Linked DNA regions of Homo sapiens: all the other regions are reported to be linked to region 2. Evidence: microRNA targets listed by miRTarBase, many of them from high-throughput screens and not tested one by one. Region 2 holds a microRNA gene; each other region holds the end of a gene's coding sequence.

Evidence for each region. Region 2 holds the annotated microRNA hsa-miR-103b (UCAUAGCCCUGUACAAUGCUGCU, at 2,026-2,048, opposite strand). A microRNA usually pairs through its seed, bases 2 to 8, with sites in the 3' UTR of a target mRNA and lowers its output. Matches are read on the target gene's strand: a 7mer-m8 pairs with bases 2 to 8, a 7mer-A1 pairs with bases 2 to 7 and ends in A, and an 8mer does both.
Region 1: the mRNA of PLXDC2 is a reported target of hsa-miR-103b. The part of its 3' UTR that is shown has no 7-base or 8-base seed match.
Region 3: miRTarBase lists GLDN as a target of hsa-miR-103b. Seed matches in the 3' UTR shown: 7mer-A1 at 1,255-1,261, 7mer-A1 at 780-786 and 8mer at 630-637.
Region 4: the mRNA of PPIL3 is a reported target of hsa-miR-103b. Seed matches in the 3' UTR shown: 7mer-m8 at 3,232-3,238.

Annotation. Positions count from the first base shown.
Region 1 is chr10:20,278,982-20,283,561 of GRCh38, forward strand. PLXDC2 (plexin domain containing 2) reads left to right here. Exons shown (of 14, transcript NM_032812.9): 14 at 722-4,580. The coding sequence ends at 838. Among named protein-coding and RNA genes, the nearest start is that of MIR4675, 270 kb to the right of the region's middle.
Region 2 is chr20:3,915,516-3,920,095 of GRCh38, forward strand. MIR103B2 (microRNA 103b-2) reads right to left here and starts at 2,048; the gene lies at 1,987-2,048. PANK2 (pantothenate kinase 2) reads left to right here. Exons shown (of 7, transcript NM_001386393.1): 5 at 1,412-1,535; 6 at 3,156-3,281. MIR103A2 (microRNA 103a-2) reads left to right here and starts at 1,979; the gene lies at 1,979-2,056.
Region 3 is chr15:51,403,855-51,408,434 of GRCh38, reverse strand. It overlaps GLDN (gliomedin), which reads right to left. Exons shown (of 10, transcript NM_181789.4): 10 at 435-4,158. The coding sequence ends at 3,681. Among named protein-coding and RNA genes, the nearest start is that of GLDN, 64 kb to the right of the region's middle.
Region 4 is chr2:200,867,723-200,872,302 of GRCh38, forward strand. It overlaps PPIL3 (peptidylprolyl isomerase like 3), which reads right to left. Exons shown (of 7, transcript NM_130906.3): 7 at 3,185-3,799. The coding sequence ends at 3,673. Among named protein-coding and RNA genes, the nearest start is that of CLK1, 5.4 kb to the left of the region's middle.

The DNA.
Region 1 (4,580 bases), not on the chromosome of region 2:
GAAGAAATGCTCTCTTTTTGTCAATACAAATAACCTGTATTTTAGGACTAGTGTCTATTGTACAATATTTGTTTCATAAGCTCACGATTGGCCACACCCTCTGATAATAGATTCCATTTTTAGGATATAACAGCTTTAATTTTCAAGCACAAAGAAATCATAGATGGGTATGCTTAACTAAATAAATAATTTCTTAAGATATTAAGTGATATTTCTTTTAGCTTATTTGCTAGGAAGTCTGGTGCCTAATTGAAAATACCCTTCTAGGAACAGCAGAATTTTTTGACCTTAGTTTTTGAGTGAATTAATGAACAAAATGAAGTGATATCAGTATTGACTTGTAGAGAAGAGAGAGTGTCTGTGCCCATATATTAAAAAATATTTTCTATTACAGTTCCTTTTTGCCTAGTTATATTTGAGCATTTCAGACATATGCATAAGGCATTAAACCTTGCTTGGGAGAAGCTCTGAATCCTTTGAGGGCAGGTGTGACAAATGGTCTTTCCTGTGACAGGGGTAGATAGCGCCATCTTGGAAATGCAAGCACAGGGCTTGGAGGGTTGATAAGGGGAATTCTTAATTCTGACTGTAGCTATAATAAGAGATAATTTAATGTGTTAATTAATTCAACATTTAATCTAAAATAGCTAGCAAATAGATTTTTCTGGTGCTAGAATCTTACCCTGACGCACATTTTTTATTTTTGTGTTTTCTGTTTCAGAGACGCCCAAGCAGATGGCCTGCGATGAAGTTTAGAAGAGGCTCTGGACATCCTGCCTATGCTGAAGTTGAACCAGTTGGAGAGAAAGAAGGCTTTATTGTATCAGAGCAGTGCTAAAATTTCTAGGACAGAACAACACCAGTACTGGTTTACAGGTGTTAAGACTAAAATTTTGCCTATACCTTTAAGACAAACAAACAAACACACACACAAACAAGCTCTAAGCTGCTGTAGCCTGAAGAAGACAAGATTTCTGGACAAGCTCAGCCCAGGAAACAAAGGGTAAACAAAAAACTAAAACTTATACAAGATACCATTTACACTGAACATAGAATTCCCTAGTGGAATGTCATCTATAGTTCACTCGGAACATCTCCCGTGGACTTATCTGAAGTATGACAAGATTATAATGCTTTTGGCTTAGGTGCAGGGTTGCAAAGGGATCAGAAAAAAAAAATCATAATAAAGCTTTAGTTCATGAGGGATCGACACCTTTGGTTCAAATGTTCTCTGATGTCTCAAAGATAACTGTTTTCCAAAGCCTGAACCCTTTCACTCAAAAGAGCAATGATGAATGTCTCAAGATTGCTAAGAAAAACAGCCCATGCAAGAGTGAGAACAAACACAAAATAAGAGATTTTCTACATTTTCAAAACAGATGTGTGGCAAAAGGATGTTGTTTTTCTGGTCTAGATCCATCTGTACCAACAAGTTCATCACTTTACAGAACGAATCTTTTTATCCGTACAGGAGGTTCAAACCATGTCTGCCTCTTCCTTTGTAATGAATGACCTTTCTATGAGCTGTGACAAAATTTCCGAACAATTAACTAAGGATTTGGGAAGAGGGGGTGGCAAACGGGGCTTTCTGTTTTCCTGCCTCAGCATGAAAACATCTGATTTATGCTTTATGGAAGCCTTACCTCCAATCCCCAACTGTTAAGTCCCATGAAACCACAGTTGCTCTGGGCTGATGGAAACAAAAGGAAACAGTATGAAGAGTTCCTTAATCATTTTTGAAACAAAAATGTTAAGGGATTTTAAACATATGATTATTTTTAATTTTATGCCTTTTCAGTACTAAACACCCATTTCATTGCTGATTCCTGTCTAAGAAGCCATTCACGTCAGCATGGCGATAGAAAGAATGAAAAAACCCTGCTGAATCATACAGTAATTTTCTTTAAAGCACATAGTAGTTACATAAATATATATATATAAATATATTTTTGTTTATAACTAACACAAGGCAGGATCTTGTGACTCTAAGAGTGCGTTTTGTCATCAAGGCAAAACAGATGCAAGATGCATCACTGCATTACTTCCATAGAGTTGTAAAATAATCCTTAATATTAGAATATTTTTCTGTCACTTAGCAAAAGTGGTTCAGTTCATTGCCGCGCCCATCATGTTCTTGACTATTTGATCCACTTTTTCGTTTATGTCAACCCCTTCCCTCTCTGGCTAAATAAAGTGGATGCAGAAAGCTCCTTAAATGGAGATATCGATTGCCTTGGAATCACAATCCTGATTTTGAAAATTCCTCATGAATGAAGAAAGGAATGGCATCCCTTGAGAAGGAAAGTGGTTAATATACATACTGAGCTCCTAAAGTTTAAATTCAGGTACTGAGTGTACAATTTCACCAACATTCTAACCCATGAAACTTTTACACTCTGTGCCAAGAAACTGTTGGCTTTTGTAAGGTACAGTGCTCAACATTTGCAGATTCAGGTCTCAAGAAGCAGAGATGTCTCATAAGCAGCATTTTCCCAACAGTTTAGCATCTGTACACATCTGCCTTGGTCATCAGTCCACTCACAGAGTACCATACTTTATCATCACAAGTGTCTGACGTGAACGAATGCCATTTTCTATTCCATATATTTTGCTTTACAATTTTAAGTATTTGATGAAGATGGTAACTTTTTCCTAACTTAGTTAACTATTAAAAAAAATTTTGAAAAGCAAGGTGATTGAAGGATTGTGATGACAATCTCTTTGCAGCAGCTATGTATGGTTTATGTGAAGTATCCCCACTTATTCTTGTGGAGCAGGTTTGGTGAGACAGCAATAACCAAATGACATGCCAATATTACTGGTGCAACTGGTATTCTACAAATGCATAAGGAACACATAGACGACTTCCTTTTAGGATAAAATGATGCTTCTTTCACTACCTTTTGTGGTAGCTGTGGCTTCCAATAGCAACTGTTTGACAGTTATATAAATCTTGCATGTGTATTCTTAGTTTGTGTCCCTTAAGTACTACTTAATTCTCAAGTAGTAATGTTATTCTTATACCCTTCAGCGTTCTATTTTGATTCAAAACAATTGATTCAAAACAATTTTGAATCAATTTTCTATTTTGATTCAAAACAATTGATAATTCTGTAAAAAAACATAAACACTGAATTCTTCAGTGAACCAAAGCAACAAATAATAGAGAAAACTTCTTGAAACTGGAGTGTGGGAAAACTTCTTAACAGAACTAAGAGTTAAAGGTAGTGAGAAGTGTGTGGTGTGTGAATTCTTTAGTGGTAAGGGGAAATGTGGGCTAAATCCTTTTCTTTCATGAAACTCTCATTCTATTTTATATTTCTGGTTTGTTCTTGTTCCCATGTGAGAAAACATACAGTTTCTGAAAATTCAAAATGGTCATCAATGCTTTGGACTTTACATAATTATGTATTAGAGAAGGTGCAACTGTACATTACTTAATATACTATGAACATAATAGAATAACAAAAAAAGATAACAAAGAGATGCAAACTTCTGGATAAATCAGATAAATGGTGCTACAGAGGAATTTAGTTATTTCAGCTTAATTATTTGTAAAAATAATAATCAGTGACTAGGTAAAGATACTGAAACTCAAGAAAAATATCTTGACCCATTTATGTCTAGTGTTCCATTATTGGAACGCTAAGCTTATGGGAGTTATTTAGAGCCTACTGCTCAAGGTCATCACCAAGGTCTGGTTGCAAAAATTCAAAAAATTGCAACCTCAGGCATAAATGGCTTAAGCCCAAGAGATGGCACTGACCATAAATGGTGGCTTGTGTGTGAAGGGTTTGGACTTCAAGATATACTAACACCTAGAAAACTAAAAGTGCAATTGACCCCCAATTACTATTTTAGTTTGAGGTATCAAGGGCATTTGCCAATCTCTTATATGTAGCTTCTAGAGTTGTGCTGTCCAATATTATATCCACTAGCCAACGTGGCTTTTGAAATTAAAATTAATTAAAATTAAATTAAAAATGTAATTCTTCAGTCACACCAGCCACATTTCAAAGGCTCAATAGCCACGCCTGGCTTGTGGCTACCATATTGGATAACAAGAAACACTTCCGTGGTTGAAGAAAATTTTAATGGACAATGCTGTGTTTCATTTGAATTCGTTGTCCTTGAAGAAAAGGGAAGAAGAGGAAAGAAACAAGATTTGGTAGCTCTTGGGCATATCCAAGCATTTTTGATTTTAGAGAGGCCCTATGGAGTAATGAAAAAAATACAAGCTGACACAGCTTTAAATCCCCACTGTGTTATCTTGGGAAAATCACTTCAACCTCCTTGAGTCTCAATTTGCAATTTTGGAAAAGAAAAACAATTTTTGTCCTGTCTTTCTTGCAAGATTATTATGCAACCTGATTAAATGTACAGATGTGCAGACTCTTAAAAACCTTATGTTAATGTAACCCATATAAAGTACGACTTTTGGTCGAGTACCAGCACAAATTTGCATTCAAAGGAAGAATAGTTCATCAGTGCAAAAAGCGTTCAAAGGTAATCAGTTCATCACGTATCTTGAGAAAAAGAGAATGCATTCAAAACACAAAGCAAAATTGCTTCAGTTTCTT
Region 2 (4,580 bases):
TCGATCTCTTGACCTCGTGATCCGCCCACCTTGGCCTCCCAAAGTGCTGGGATTACAGGCGTGAGCCACCACGCCCGCCAGTTTTAGCTCTTATATTTAGCTCTTATATTTGATCCATTTTGAGTAAGTTTTTGTGTATGGTGTGAGGTAGAGCTCCAAGTTCATTTCTTTTTGCGTGTGGATATCCAGTTGTCCTAGTACCATTTGTTGAAAAGATGATTCTTTCCCTGTTAAATTCTCTTGGCCCCTTTGTCAAAAATTAGTTGACCATAGATGTTTGGGTTTACTCCTGGACTCTTAAGTTATGTTCCATTGATATATATGTCTGTTTTTATACCAGTACCATACTGCCTTGATACTGTAGCGTTGTATTAAGTTCTGAAGTAAGAAAGTGTGAGTCATCCAACTTGTTCTTTTTTCGAGATTATTTTGGCTATTCTGGGTACCTTGAGAATATGAATTGTAGGGTTAACTTGGCAAGGTCTGTAAATAAGACAACTGGGATTTTAATAGAGATTACATTGAATCTTTTGGCCATCCTAATACAAAGTCTTCTGATCCAAAAAGATGGAATGTCTTCCCATTGATTTAGATCTTTGCTTTCTTTCAGCAGTGTTTTGTAGATTTTATTGTACAGGTGTTAATACTTTTGTTAGATATATCCGTAAGTGTTTTATTCTCTAATGCTATTATAAATGAAATCATTGTCTCCATTTTGAGATCGTTTAGAAGTACAATTGTTTTTCGTATATTGGGGCACATGGCTTTTACTAATAGAAAAATCATATGTATACATGCTTGTTTACTAAGTTTTAGGCACTTGGTCAATGCTGTTGATTTTCTGTTTGTAACATTTGCTCGTTGGTCATCACTTCCTTTTCTGATTGGAAAATTATTGTAGCAGTTCTGCTGAGCATGTACTTTGAAGTACTTTATCTTCTAGGGAAACCTGAAATTCTTAAGCAGCTCACTCTGGGACTCAGCTGTCTGTGCTTTACTCTGCTCTGATAGAGCAGTTTACCAGATGTGCATGTGGCCATCTGAGTGGAACAGCTGTGCAGTTGAGATGAATTGCTGTTAGAGGTGTTGTCCTGGAACTGTCTGGTTGCAGGAGCAATGGTGCCTTCCAGTGCATCTGATGAGATTCTAACTGAATATGTGAATATCTGGTATCCAAGCTAGATTTCAGTAGAAACCGCAGGGAAAGCTGTCTGCTCATTTAGAATGTTGGAGGGCTCTGTTTGAAGTTTGCATTTCTCTTTGAACAGATGCTCCATTGCAAAATAAAAGGTTTGAAGATTTCAACAATGTTGCCCTAAAAGCTAATTTTATTTCAATAAAGTAACATTCAAGTTCTGTTGGGCTTTGTTGCTGTTGGTTTAGCAATGGGATTTTTTTTCCCCCATCACAGCTTTGGAAACATGATGAGCAAGGAGAAGCGAGAGGCTGTCAGTAAAGAGGACCTGGCCAGAGCGACTTTGATCACCATCACCAACAACATTGGCTCAATAGCAAGAATGTGTGCCCTTAATGAAGTAAGGGGACATGGATTTCTTTAATTGCTCTAAGGAAAATACTGAACTTAAGTGGGCCCCATCACGTCTGTTTTCTCAGAACAGTGCCTAAATGTAGTCATTTGGGGTGGGGTTTGTTTTAGCACGAAGTTAAAACTCTTCAAATACAGATTAATCTTCTTTTTTTTTTTTTTAAACTGAAGATAAACATTGCTACTTGTCTAGAGGTAAAATGACATCTTTTGAGGAGAAAGTAGAGGAAGAGTGGAAGGTAGCCAGTGTTCCAGATATTGGGGACTGTTGGGGGTGATGATGGATAACGATGCTGAATGTAGACTCCACACTCACTGCTGAGCTCTAGAGGCCCTAGGGAGGAATCCAGAGGAAGTCACGGAAGCTGGGAGAAGACTGAGCAGGCCGAGGGGTGCCCTCCTTGGCTCCCCCACCTCAGCAGAGCTGCGTCTTTGTGCTTTCAGCTTCTTTACAGTGCTGCCTTGTAGCATTCAGGTCAAGCAGCATTGTACAGGGCTATGAAAGAACCAAGAATGGGCTGCCCTTGGGAAAAGAGGATCTAGGATCCAGTTGGTGCAGCTTATGGCTTGTCCCTGTGTGTATAGTTGTTAAATTATTCTTTTATTTTTATTTTTAAGAAGTTATTCTTTAGATAATAATAGGCATGTAGCTTAAAAGGAAACCTCAAAAGACACAAAGGATTTGTCTCATTTTAAATTAAAAAAATACTGTATCAGCATCAAGTAATTAAACATTTGTTGGAATATCATAACTTCTTTTTTCTTTATTGTATGTTCCCTTTCCTGTGCTTACGTATTTTCAGAAATTTTAGTTGGTGTGCATACCACAATTTGTATTTTATACTTAAATATACATTTCATGGTTGTATATTTATTTGATCAAGTTCTTTTATATCAAATAACAGAGCTTGGCATTTGGTTGCTTGCTCATAACTCGGCAGTAAGCATTTTTAAGCATGAAGTTATTCTTTGGTTGAATTTTATTCTTGATATGGGGCTTAGGAGTGAGATTTCTGGTCTACAGAAATGATCATGCTCATGAATTTTGACATTTATCGTCATGATGCTTTGCACAAGGGCTGCACCAATTTAGATCATCTTTAGCGGTGAATGAGTGGATTAATTTTACTACAACTACTGATGGTGGTGGTGGAATTTCAGTTGCTTTTTTTTGCGAGGTTAATAGGTCTAAAATTTTACTTTTGTTTGATGACTAGTGGTTTGAATTTTTCGCTGCCTGTTATATTGCTTGTATACTTTGCCTGTTTGTGTCACTGTCCTTTTGGATTGGAGTCATACTGTTTTTTTTTGTTTATTTTAACTTATCTGTATAAAACATTGTATTCAAAACTAGTTATTGTTGGTCAGATTTAATACAAATGTTTTTCCTAATCTGTTTTCTTCTCCTGTGACATTATCTAGCATGCTTTGCAGTGGGTCCAGAGTTGTCTGGGGATCAAGTTTAAGTAGCCCTGGACCAACTGGACTAAATTTGATCAGCAGTCAAATTGTTGCTAAGAGCTATGCACATGGTGCTGTATTTGGGGTAGCTTTTATGAGAAAATAGAAATTAAGATGAAAACTAATTGCCTTTTTTTGGTGTGCTCAGAACATTAACCAGGTGGTATTTGTTGGAAATTTCTTGAGAATTAATACGATCGCCATGCGGCTTTTGGCATATGCTTTGGATTATTGGTCCAAGGGGCAGTTGAAAGCACTTTTTTCGGAACACGAGGTAAGCTGACTTGTTCGTTGTGGTATATTATGTACACAGAGGGCTTGTGGGTCACACTGTCATGGAACTTGAGGTAGAGGGTGGAGGTGAAATGGGCTGCAGTGTTTCTTTTGTTTTTTGTTTTTTTGAGACGGAGTCTCGCTCTGTCACCTAGGTTGGAGTGCGTGGCACAGTCTTGGGGCTCACTGCAGCCTCCGCCTCCTGGGTTCAAGCAGTCCTCCCACCTCAGTCTCTTAAGTAGCTGGGATTACAAGTGTGCGCCCCCACACCCTGCTAATTTTTGTACTTTCAGTAGAAATGGGGTTTCACCATGTTGGCCAAGCTGGTCTGGTCTCAAACTCCTGACCTTAAGTGATCTGCCAGCCTCAGCCTCCCAAAGTTCCAGGATTACAGGTGTGAACCACTGTGCCTGAACTTTTTTGGTAGTTTAATTTCGTAACATTTGAAAGCTGTTTCTTCCCTGATACTAATGCAAGGTAAATTTTGGGTTAATTTAATTGTAAGCTTAAGGAATTTTAGAGAAAAACCCTTGAACATTCCCCTATATTTCTGATGCCATATTTTTGTCTGAACTATCCTCTATATTTTTTCTATTGCACTGACTGTGTCATTACTCTGGGTTCTGGTTTTTTCATTTTTTTCAGTGCCAGTTTTTATATATTGTTGTAATTCTTGTGCCAGTTATTTAAGATGCATGTTGTAAAAATGAATAGATGAGTAAACCTCTCAGACTAGAACCATACTATCATAAGAACTTAAGTACAATTGTAGACAGGCTGGAAATGATGAAATGGAAAAGAATCAAATTGCTCAACCTCATAGCCTGTCTTGGAAAGCACTCTTATTTTTCCTATTTGGGGAAAAAGAAGCAGAGGTATGGAAAGGCGTGTAGGGGTTCTTTCTTCCCTTCTTGGTTGTGGGGCAGTTGAACTATTCTTTCAACTGTTCTTGGATTTTAGATACTGTTATTATGAACATTTTTCAGAATTGTATTGCATATTTAGTTTAACAGTCTATATGAATTAAAGGAAATCAAAGTCCAGATAATAGCACAGATTTGAAGTGCTAGAGATTACTTTTTCCTTTAAAGTTACTTTAAGTTTTTCTTTTTAAATTGCTTTAGTTCATAGTTGAAGTCCAAAGTACACAAATCCCCATATCAAAAAGCTTAAAATTGAAGTCATCTAACTTAGTTTTAAAATTCTAACATTACTGTATTTGTAAACCAGCACCGAATTGCCATTAAGTTTCTTACAGTTCATGTTTCTGTATACATCTTTTTTTGTGATCTGACTTATT
Region 3 (4,580 bases), not on the chromosome of region 2:
CCAAAGGAAGTAAATACTATTACTTTTTTTTAGACATGTTTTATAGATGAAAGAGGCTCTGAGGGATTAAGAGACTTGCCCAAATTCACATAAATCCAGTTTTAAATTTTTGTTCTTTCAATTTTTAGCCTCAAATATTATGTCCTCAATTGCCTTGCCCATGCTGATGAATTGGCAAAGCTTGATTGCATTTATGTCTACGTATAACCCAGTTCTAGTACTAGATTTCCATCGCTCATGTTTTCTTATAGAGAAGAGACAGTCCATATCAACAATTTTTCAGTACTGTATTCAGAAGGAGCTAGCAAATTGAGTTTCCACAGAGGAGCAACTAATATAATTCTACCACAATATTGTTTTGGATTTTTTCTTTTAAATGTTACGTATACATTAACAAGAGGTAAAAATAACAACACACTTGTTTCAACATGTGATTGTGCTCAGCAATGATTATTTTATTTGACTTGTTAAATTACAACCAAAAAGACATTCATCGTTATTCATTTGTTGTTCAGGATCTGTGCAGGTTGGAAATTATGGCTCTTAATGCTGTGAAACACAGGGCCACAGCATCTGGATGAAAACGCAAAGCCCTATCACTCATTTCTCCTTCACTTGCCATCAGATGATCATAGCCAAAACGTCCTCTGTGTGGTTGGAAGATGACACCTCACTCATCAAGAATTGTACTGTTTCATTTGACTTTTCACCTTGTGACTGTTAAGATGCCTAAGATCAGAACTCCTCATCTTAAAACTTCCACCCCAGAACTTTTTCTGTCATAGCACCTGTGCTTAACGATACTTGGAGACCAGAACCACCTACTTGGCTTCAGGAGGACACCTTATCAGCTGAAAGAAAATGCCTTGAAATAGAGTGTGGCCTAGCTTTGAGGTTGGGAGGGATGGTTTTGTTTACTTTCCAGTGGGAAGCTATCTACTTTAGATTAAAGAAGAATTAGAGAATTATCTGGTTTGATTCTGACATCAGAAGTGCAGATATTTGGAAAGTGTTTTAGAGCAACTTTGGTTATAAATGAGAGGGTAAACTCCTAAAACAGTATCTTGACTTAAAAACATTCAGTTGTATACTCTATTTTAGCAGTGAGCCCAAAACTTCTTTAAAAAATCAAGTAATGTTTACAAGAAAGAATAAAATCTTAATCCTTTTCACTTTTAAAGACAATCAGATAAGATTACCCACTGCGATTAAACACTGATCAAACTCAGTTGTCCTTACGTTAGCATTACTCTGTCATAGCAAAAAAAAAAGAAAAAAGAAAAAAAGTCCCGGTGTAAGCTTCTCCAGTGGTGAGCATGATCCCTTACTCACAAGTAAGGGAGCCCAGATAGCTCAGATATCAAGACTGAGGTTTCTGAAACATTTTTCTAAAAGGAATATGTGCTAATTAACAACCTCTTTTGGTTGCTACCTTATATACAATTAGTATTGTATGTACTATTATTATGAAACTATATTCCTAACCTGGTCTCCTGTATTCAGCAACAGCAACATATATATTTAAATACTTTAAAAGGACACCAGCACTTATTAGACATATTGATCTTGAACATGAGACTCTTTGTTAGAGAACGTGAATCTGAAAAGAGTATTTTTAAAAGCTAAGGTGACATGGTACAACCAATCTAATGAAAAGTAGGTGAAGTTTCAAATAGCCATCATATTGAGAACACAACAAACAAGTCATTGACAGCTGCCTGGGGACTTTCAGGGGAGCAGGGAGATTTGAATATTTAAATCTGTATATCCCCTAAGTTTTATTTTCTTATATTTTATTTTTTAGAGATGGGATCTCTCTAGGCTGGTCCTGAGATCCTGGCCTCAAGTGATCCTCCCATCCCTGCCTCCAAAGTAGCTGGGATTGCAGTTATGTGCCACCATGCCCAGTTCAACCCTAAGTTTTAAAATACTGCTGTTAATAATATATTGAACTCAGGGCCATTGAGAATGAATTTGGTCCCAAAGAGAAAGTTTCAGAATACACACAAATTGGGACAAGTTGCTGAAAAATCTTTACATAAGATTTGCCCTGGTTCCCCTTCCTGGCTGCAGAGCCCCAGGAACTTTTCCAGCTTCCTCTCTATTCGCAGTGGCCCTTCCCGGGGCCGCAGCGCTGGGCTGAAAGATGTTTAAAGAAGTGAGTTGGCAGAAAATATGCATATTTAAGAGCATTTAGGAGCAAGTTCAACTGGATTCTCTCCTGGCATCCAAGGGGACCAGATCACATCCTTTAAAACTATGTTAGAGAAAGAACTGTCCCCTAACCAGCCTTTGTGGAGGGCCACTTCATCTTACGCCGTTATCAGCCTTCCCCTCTACTCAAAACGCAAGTCACATCCTATGCGGCTTCTTAGTTTAGAACAAAACAAAACAGGCTCTGGTTCTGATTTTTTCAAGAATCAGGCTCACTTTATATTCTTTATCAGGAGTCAGCAATCTTTTTCCATAAAGGGGTAGCTGGTCAATATTTTAGGCACTGTGGGGCCATATGCTCTTTGTTGCAATGACTCGACTCTGCTGTTGCAGAGCAAAAGCAATGTCAGGCCGTACTGCATAAACAAATGAGTGTGGCTGTGCTCAGTAAAACCTTATTTAAAAAAACAGGCAATGGACTGGCTCTGGCCCAGTTCTACATAATAGCCACAAATGGAGCCTCTCTTCTGAACACTGCAAAGTGCTTCCCATGGTTCCAGCCAGATTAACGTCTACTTACACAGCATTTAGTACTTTGATAGTGGATCCACAGGAGAAGCATAAGAAGTCAGAGTGATCTGAGGATTCAGTGTTCATGATCCACAGCTACAAATCAACATGATCAGAAACTGGGGGGAACCTGGAAGATCATGATTCTGTTTTATTAAGAAACCTGGGCCAGGCACACATGCCTGTAATCCAGCATTTTGGGAGGCCAAGGCAGGAGGATCACTTGAGCCCCAGGAGTTCAAGACCAGCCTGGGAAACATAGCAAGACTCTCTCTCTATTTAAAATAAGAAAAGAAAAAAAATAGCTTATTGAAAAAAAAAAAAAAAAAAAAACCTGAACATGTAGCTGTCCCTGGCTTTTGCTAATCTCAGAGCTGCCCAATCAGCAGCTGAGGGTAATGGTTATTCTGTGGTGGCAGGTGCAGATGCAAAGAAAAGCAATAAATTATGGATAATGTGATACTTTAGATGTCTTAAAGAGTCAATGCATTTTTTCAAAGAACAAGATATAAGTCAGCACTGAGGGATTCACTACTCAAGCCACTGGACTTATCAACTCAAAGGTAAATTTGGTCAGCATGTGGCTAAAAAAGCTAAACGACAGAAGCAGATACATAAAAGTTGTGAGAAGAGCAGCCACCAAGAATCACCAAATTACCTACAGGTACAGAAAATCTCCCCAATCATCTTAGCCAATTCAGATTACCAATGGGGAAACTAAGGCCCAAGGAGAAAGAGGTAACTTGCAGAGCCAGCTGTGGGGAGATCACCAAATCTCAGCCATTTCAACTTCCAATCTGTTGCTATTTCACTAAGCGGGGCTCACTGACCATATAAACACTTTTGAGGTTATTTTCTAAATATCTGGCTGACGTTAAAAAAACAAGTTTCCTGTTGGGGGAGAACTGGTCCCAGAAAACCCCTGAAATTTGCTGAAGGGAGCCGAATGCAGCACATCACTGATTTAAGGTAGTTGACAAAAACTGCACAGGATAAAGCATTAAATGGCCATCTTCCCATGAATATAAATGCTGATCTCTCATGTTGTATGCTAACATGGCAAGAACAGACTGGGAAGTTCTTAAATCAAAGTTTGCATTGATCTGTTTCCCTCCTAACAAATCAAAGGCAAATGTGACCCTCATATCTTTGGTGTCTGTGACATAGAGGATTCCTCGGGCAATGAAGGCGTTGCCAGCCTTGGATTTAGGGTACGTGGTATTGACGTGTTGCACCACTGAGAATGTCCTCTCATCCAGTTGTGCTACAAGAATGCTCGAGCCGTCCACACTTGACGCATAGATAATCCAAAGGCCCTTTTCATCTACAGCTAGATTGAAGTAAGTTTTGGAATTTGCAAAAAGGTATTTTCGATCAAAATACAAGGCATTTTCAAGCTTCAGAGTTTGGGATGTTTCCTGGCCAAATTCAAATCTGAAATATGCAAACAAAGAAAAGTAGACATGAATCACCGTTTCTGTGGACAGGTGGTTTATTAGGCTCCTCTATTAAACTGAGTTAGTGGGTCTGGGGTGAGGGCTGGGATTTTGCATTCCTTACAAGCTCCCAGGTAATGCCTGCTCTGCTGGTCCTTGGGCAATGCTGTGAGCAGTGAGGCTGTAAGAGACAATGACTGGCTGTGCTAGCAGAGGCAACAGGGAGACAGTGGTGTGGTGTCAGAATAATCACCAAAGTCAGAATGAATTTGCATCTGAGTGACCACTTACTAGCCATGTGACCCCCACTTCACTAATGCCCAGATGTTTGTTGACCTCCTGAAATGCCCCCTCAAAGATTCTTAGAGCTGCAAGGGGGCTGTAAAAGAGGATCTAGTCCAATCTTTTCATTTTATAAGC
Region 4 (4,580 bases), not on the chromosome of region 2:
CAAACAATTCTCCTGCCTCAGCCTCCCGAGTAGCTGGGATTATAGGCATGTGCCACCACGCCCAGCTAATTTTGTATTTTTAATAGAGACAGGTTTTCTGTATGTTGGTCAGGCTGGTCTCGAACTCCCAACCTCAGGTGATCTGCCCGCCTTGGCCTCCCAAAGGGCTGGAATTACAGGCATGAGCCACTACGCTCGGCTGGTATAAGTTTTAGGAACACCCAAATCCAACCACTGTGATCTAGGCAGTGGGCAGAATATGGTCTTGATGAAATCAGTGGTAGAACCCAATGAATGGCTTGATGAGGTGAGAGCCCTGTGGTGGACATGAATGTTAGGACAGCAGCTTCTACTTACTTACTACATGCCAGAAGCTTTACACACATTTAACCCTCACAATTGTCTTCTGAGGTATTATTTATGGATGAGAATACTAAAGCTTGAAGATGTTAACTTGCTTAAAGTTACACTGTAAGGGACACAGCTGTGATTCAAACACAGACCAGAACTCCACAAACTGGTGCCTTTAACTAGTTCATTGCATTTTTCAAATGGATATTCTGTAAAGCTCCACTCTTCAATATTTTCAGAGATATGCCTTATGTTCTCACTTGTAATATAACCAAGTATCCTAGCCTTGAAATGCATTTTAAAGTTTTTTTTTTCCTTTTTTTTTTGAGACAGAAGTCTCTGTTTCCACGCTGGAGTGCAGTGGTGCAATCTCGGCTCACTGCGACCTCTGCCTCCCAGGTTCAAGCAATTCTCCTGCCTCAGCCTCTCAAGTAGCTGGGACTACAGGCGCGTGCCACCACGGCCAGCTAATTTTTGTATTTTTAGTAGAGACGGGGTTTCACCATGTTGGCCAGGATGGTCTCGATCTCTTGACCTCATGATCCGCCTGCCTCAGCCTCCCAAAGTGCTGGGATTACAGGCGTGAGCCACCGTGCCTGGCCCTTTCTTTCTTAATTTCAGAATGTAGTCTTGTTAAAACCGTTTCCCTCCCTTTCCCGCCTCACACTCCCTTATACTATGCACATTTATCTAACTGTACACTTGTTAAACTTACACTATACACTCTTATCTATAGGGTCTTAACTCTCTTGCCCAGGCTGGAGTCCAGTGGCACGACCATGGATCACTGCAGTCTCTACTTCCCTAGCTCAAGCAATCCTCCCACCTCAGCCTTTTAAGTAGCTGGGGCTACCACATCCGGCTTTTTTTTTTTTTTTTTTTTTTTTTCAATTTTTAGTAGATTCAAGGTCTCACTACGTTGCCCAGGCCGATCTAAAACTCCTGGGCTCAGGTGATCCTCCCACCTTGGCCTCCCCAAAGTGCTGCGATTATAGGTGTGAGCCACTGTGCCTGGCCCATCAAGGGCTAATCATGACATATACCAGGCTTGGAGACCCAGCTGCAAAATTCCAGAGATTACCTTAAGGTGGTTAGTCAACAACCCAGCCATTGTTGAGATGATGCCAGCCCCCACTCCAGGTGGACCACAACTCAAGATAGCCACTACAGCAAGCCACAGAGATCTGAAACCCTGCACCACTCCCGCATGCCTCCCATTCTAAGTTCCCTTTTTAAGCACCTCTCCCCAGCCTAAAGTTCAAAATGATTTCTTTAAGGTACTAGCTTTGGCCATTTCCCCACTGCTAGCTCTGGAATAAAGTCACTTTCCTTTTCCTGCATCTCCTCCTTGTTGTTGACTTTGCAAGTGGCGTGCAGCCCAGCCTGCATTCAGTTACAATAAATGGGAGCTAAATCTTGGATTCACATGGACAAAAAGATGGGAACAGTGGACACTGGGGACTCCAAAAAAGGAGGAAGGGGCAGGGGCAAGGGCTGAAAAGCTTCCTTTTGGGCACTATGTTCACTGTCTGGGTGACAGGATCAGTAGAAGCCCAAACCTCAGCACCATGCATTATACACTTGTAACAAACCTGCACATGTACCTGCTGAATCTAAAATTAAAAAAAAAAAAGATATGCCTTAAAAAATGTCCATGAGCAGGCCGGGTGTGGTGGCTCACGCCTGTAATCCCAGCACTTTGGGCGGCCAAGGTGGACGGATCACCTGAGGTCAGGAGCTCACGACCAGCCTGGCCAACATGGTGAAACCCTGTCTCTACTAAAAACACAAAAAAACAATAGCTAGGCATGGTGGCAGATGCCTGTAATCCCAGCTACTCGGGAGGCTGAGGCAGGAGAATCACTTGAGCCCGGGAGGCGGAGGTTGCAGTGAGACGAGATTGTGCCATTGCACTCCAGCCTGAGTGACAAGAGTGAGACTATGTCTCAAAAAAAAAAAAAAAAGTCCATGAGCAAATCAGTTGGGAAATGTTGAGTGTTTACTGTATTCCAAGACATCTTTTTTTTTTTTTTTTTTTTGAGATGGAGTCTCCCACTGTCACCCAGGCTGGAGTGCAATGGCTCGATCTTGGCTCACTACAACCTCTGCCTCCCGGGTTCAAGTGATTCTCCTGCCTCAGCCTCCCAAGTAGCTGGGACTACAGGCACCCGCCACCATGCCCAGCTAATTTTTTATATTTTTAGTAGAGACAGGGTTTCACCATGTTAGCCAGGATGGTCTTGATCTCCTGATCTCGTGATCTGCCCATCTTGGCCTCCCAAAGTGCTGGGATTATAGGCGTCAGCCACCACACTCGGCCTCCAGGACCTCTGAGAGCCTTTACTGTAAACCTAAAGATCACACCTGTAATCCCAGCACTTTGGGAGGCCGAGGTGGGCAGATCATGAGGTCAAAAGATCAAGACCATCCTGGCCAACATGGTCTCTGTAAACCCCGTCTCTACTGAAAAAAAAAATACAAAAAGTAGCTGGGCATGGTGGTGTGCACCTGTAGTCCCAGCTACTTGGGAGGCTGAGGCAGGAGAATCACTTGAACCTGGGAGGCAGGGGTTGCAGTGACCCGCTGCACTCCAGCCCGGGTAAAAGAGCAAGACTCCGTCTCAAAAAGAAAAAAAAAAAAATCAGAGAAAATAGCAAATGGATTGGCTGGCCTTTCCAGACTAACTTTTTATCCTGTCCCTCCTCTTTCTAACTGTATAAAGTGAATAATTAATGGTAGAGCTCTTACCGTTAGTATCAGTTTCAGGAATACCCAAATTTTCAGATTTGGGGATACTTGCATATACATAATAAGATATCTTGGAGATGAGACCCAAATTTAAACATGAAGTTCATTTACGTTTCATATATACCTTATACACATAGCCTGAAGGTAATTTTACACAATATTTTAATTAATTTGTCCTACGATTTAATTCTTTAAAACTTTTTAAATTTTATTATAAAATAACACTTCCAGGATACGGACTTGCTGTGGGAGGAATATGTAATCAGGCCACTCAAAAATGCCTGCACTTGAGGCTGAGCATTTAAAAATGAATGTTCATATGTAACAAAAATTAAATGATGTATTTTTTGTATTAAAATTAAAGAAATATGTTGGATAATCATTATAATAAAGAATATGCTCTAAGAATGGGGATAAAAGCTGTTGGGCGCCCCTTGGTACCACCATTTCATAGAAGATCATAGTTGTAAACAAGCAGAAGGATGATGCAATCTCTGACATAATTAAAACCGGGTAAACCACAATAAGTGTGTTCCAGCAATTTGTCAAGTTATTTGTCCAGGTCTATCATAGCTACTGAGCAAATGGGTTGGCATGAATAGTTATGTCCTTAATGTGTACATCATTAAGAGGTCGGTATGTCTTCTCATTTACTGGCAACTTCTCCAACTCATCTAGAGTTTCCAGACCATCTATTACCCTGAAAGAGAAACAACATAACATATGAAAATTTCCTTAAATTGAAACATGATATCCATATCTATGACAATTACAGTCTCCTTAAAAAATAATCAAGTCTTACAGATCTCTGAGTTCTCTAGTTGAATGTACAACAAAATGTTGATTTTCCATCATAGATATGGATCAAAATTCAGAAATAATTTACTTTTATGCCCTTAGTCAACAATACAAAGGGTAGGAATATTTCCACCATAGTACCTAAAATTATATTCTACCCCATTCATACAGTGACAGAGAACAGCTACAAATGGGACTAATATAACCAGTTAAAGGGAAAACAAACTGTTTTTCTACACTTTCATACTTCCAACACCAAATGTGTGGGTTTTCCCAGTTCTCCAATTCTCTGGGTATCCCACAACTTGATTATTTTTTCAAAATTTTATTTAATTTTTTAAAGACAGGATCTCACTGGGACTACAAATGCATGCCCCCACACCTGGCCCTATAATTTAATTGTGACACTAACTACAAGGAGTGAACAGAGACCCCGGTTAATCCCACAAGACAGCCCCTACCACTTCGGATGCCAGTTCCAAGTCCCGATTGTGATCTGTACTATCTGACTAACCATGATATAATTTGGGATTTTTCATGCCCCCCAGCTCTGTTCAATAATTTTCAAAAATGGCTCATAGAACTTAGGAAAGCACTTTATTTATTACTATGGGCTATTATAAAGGTTACAACTCAGGAACAACCAAATGGAGGAGATGCATAGGGCAAAGTCTGAGAGAGGG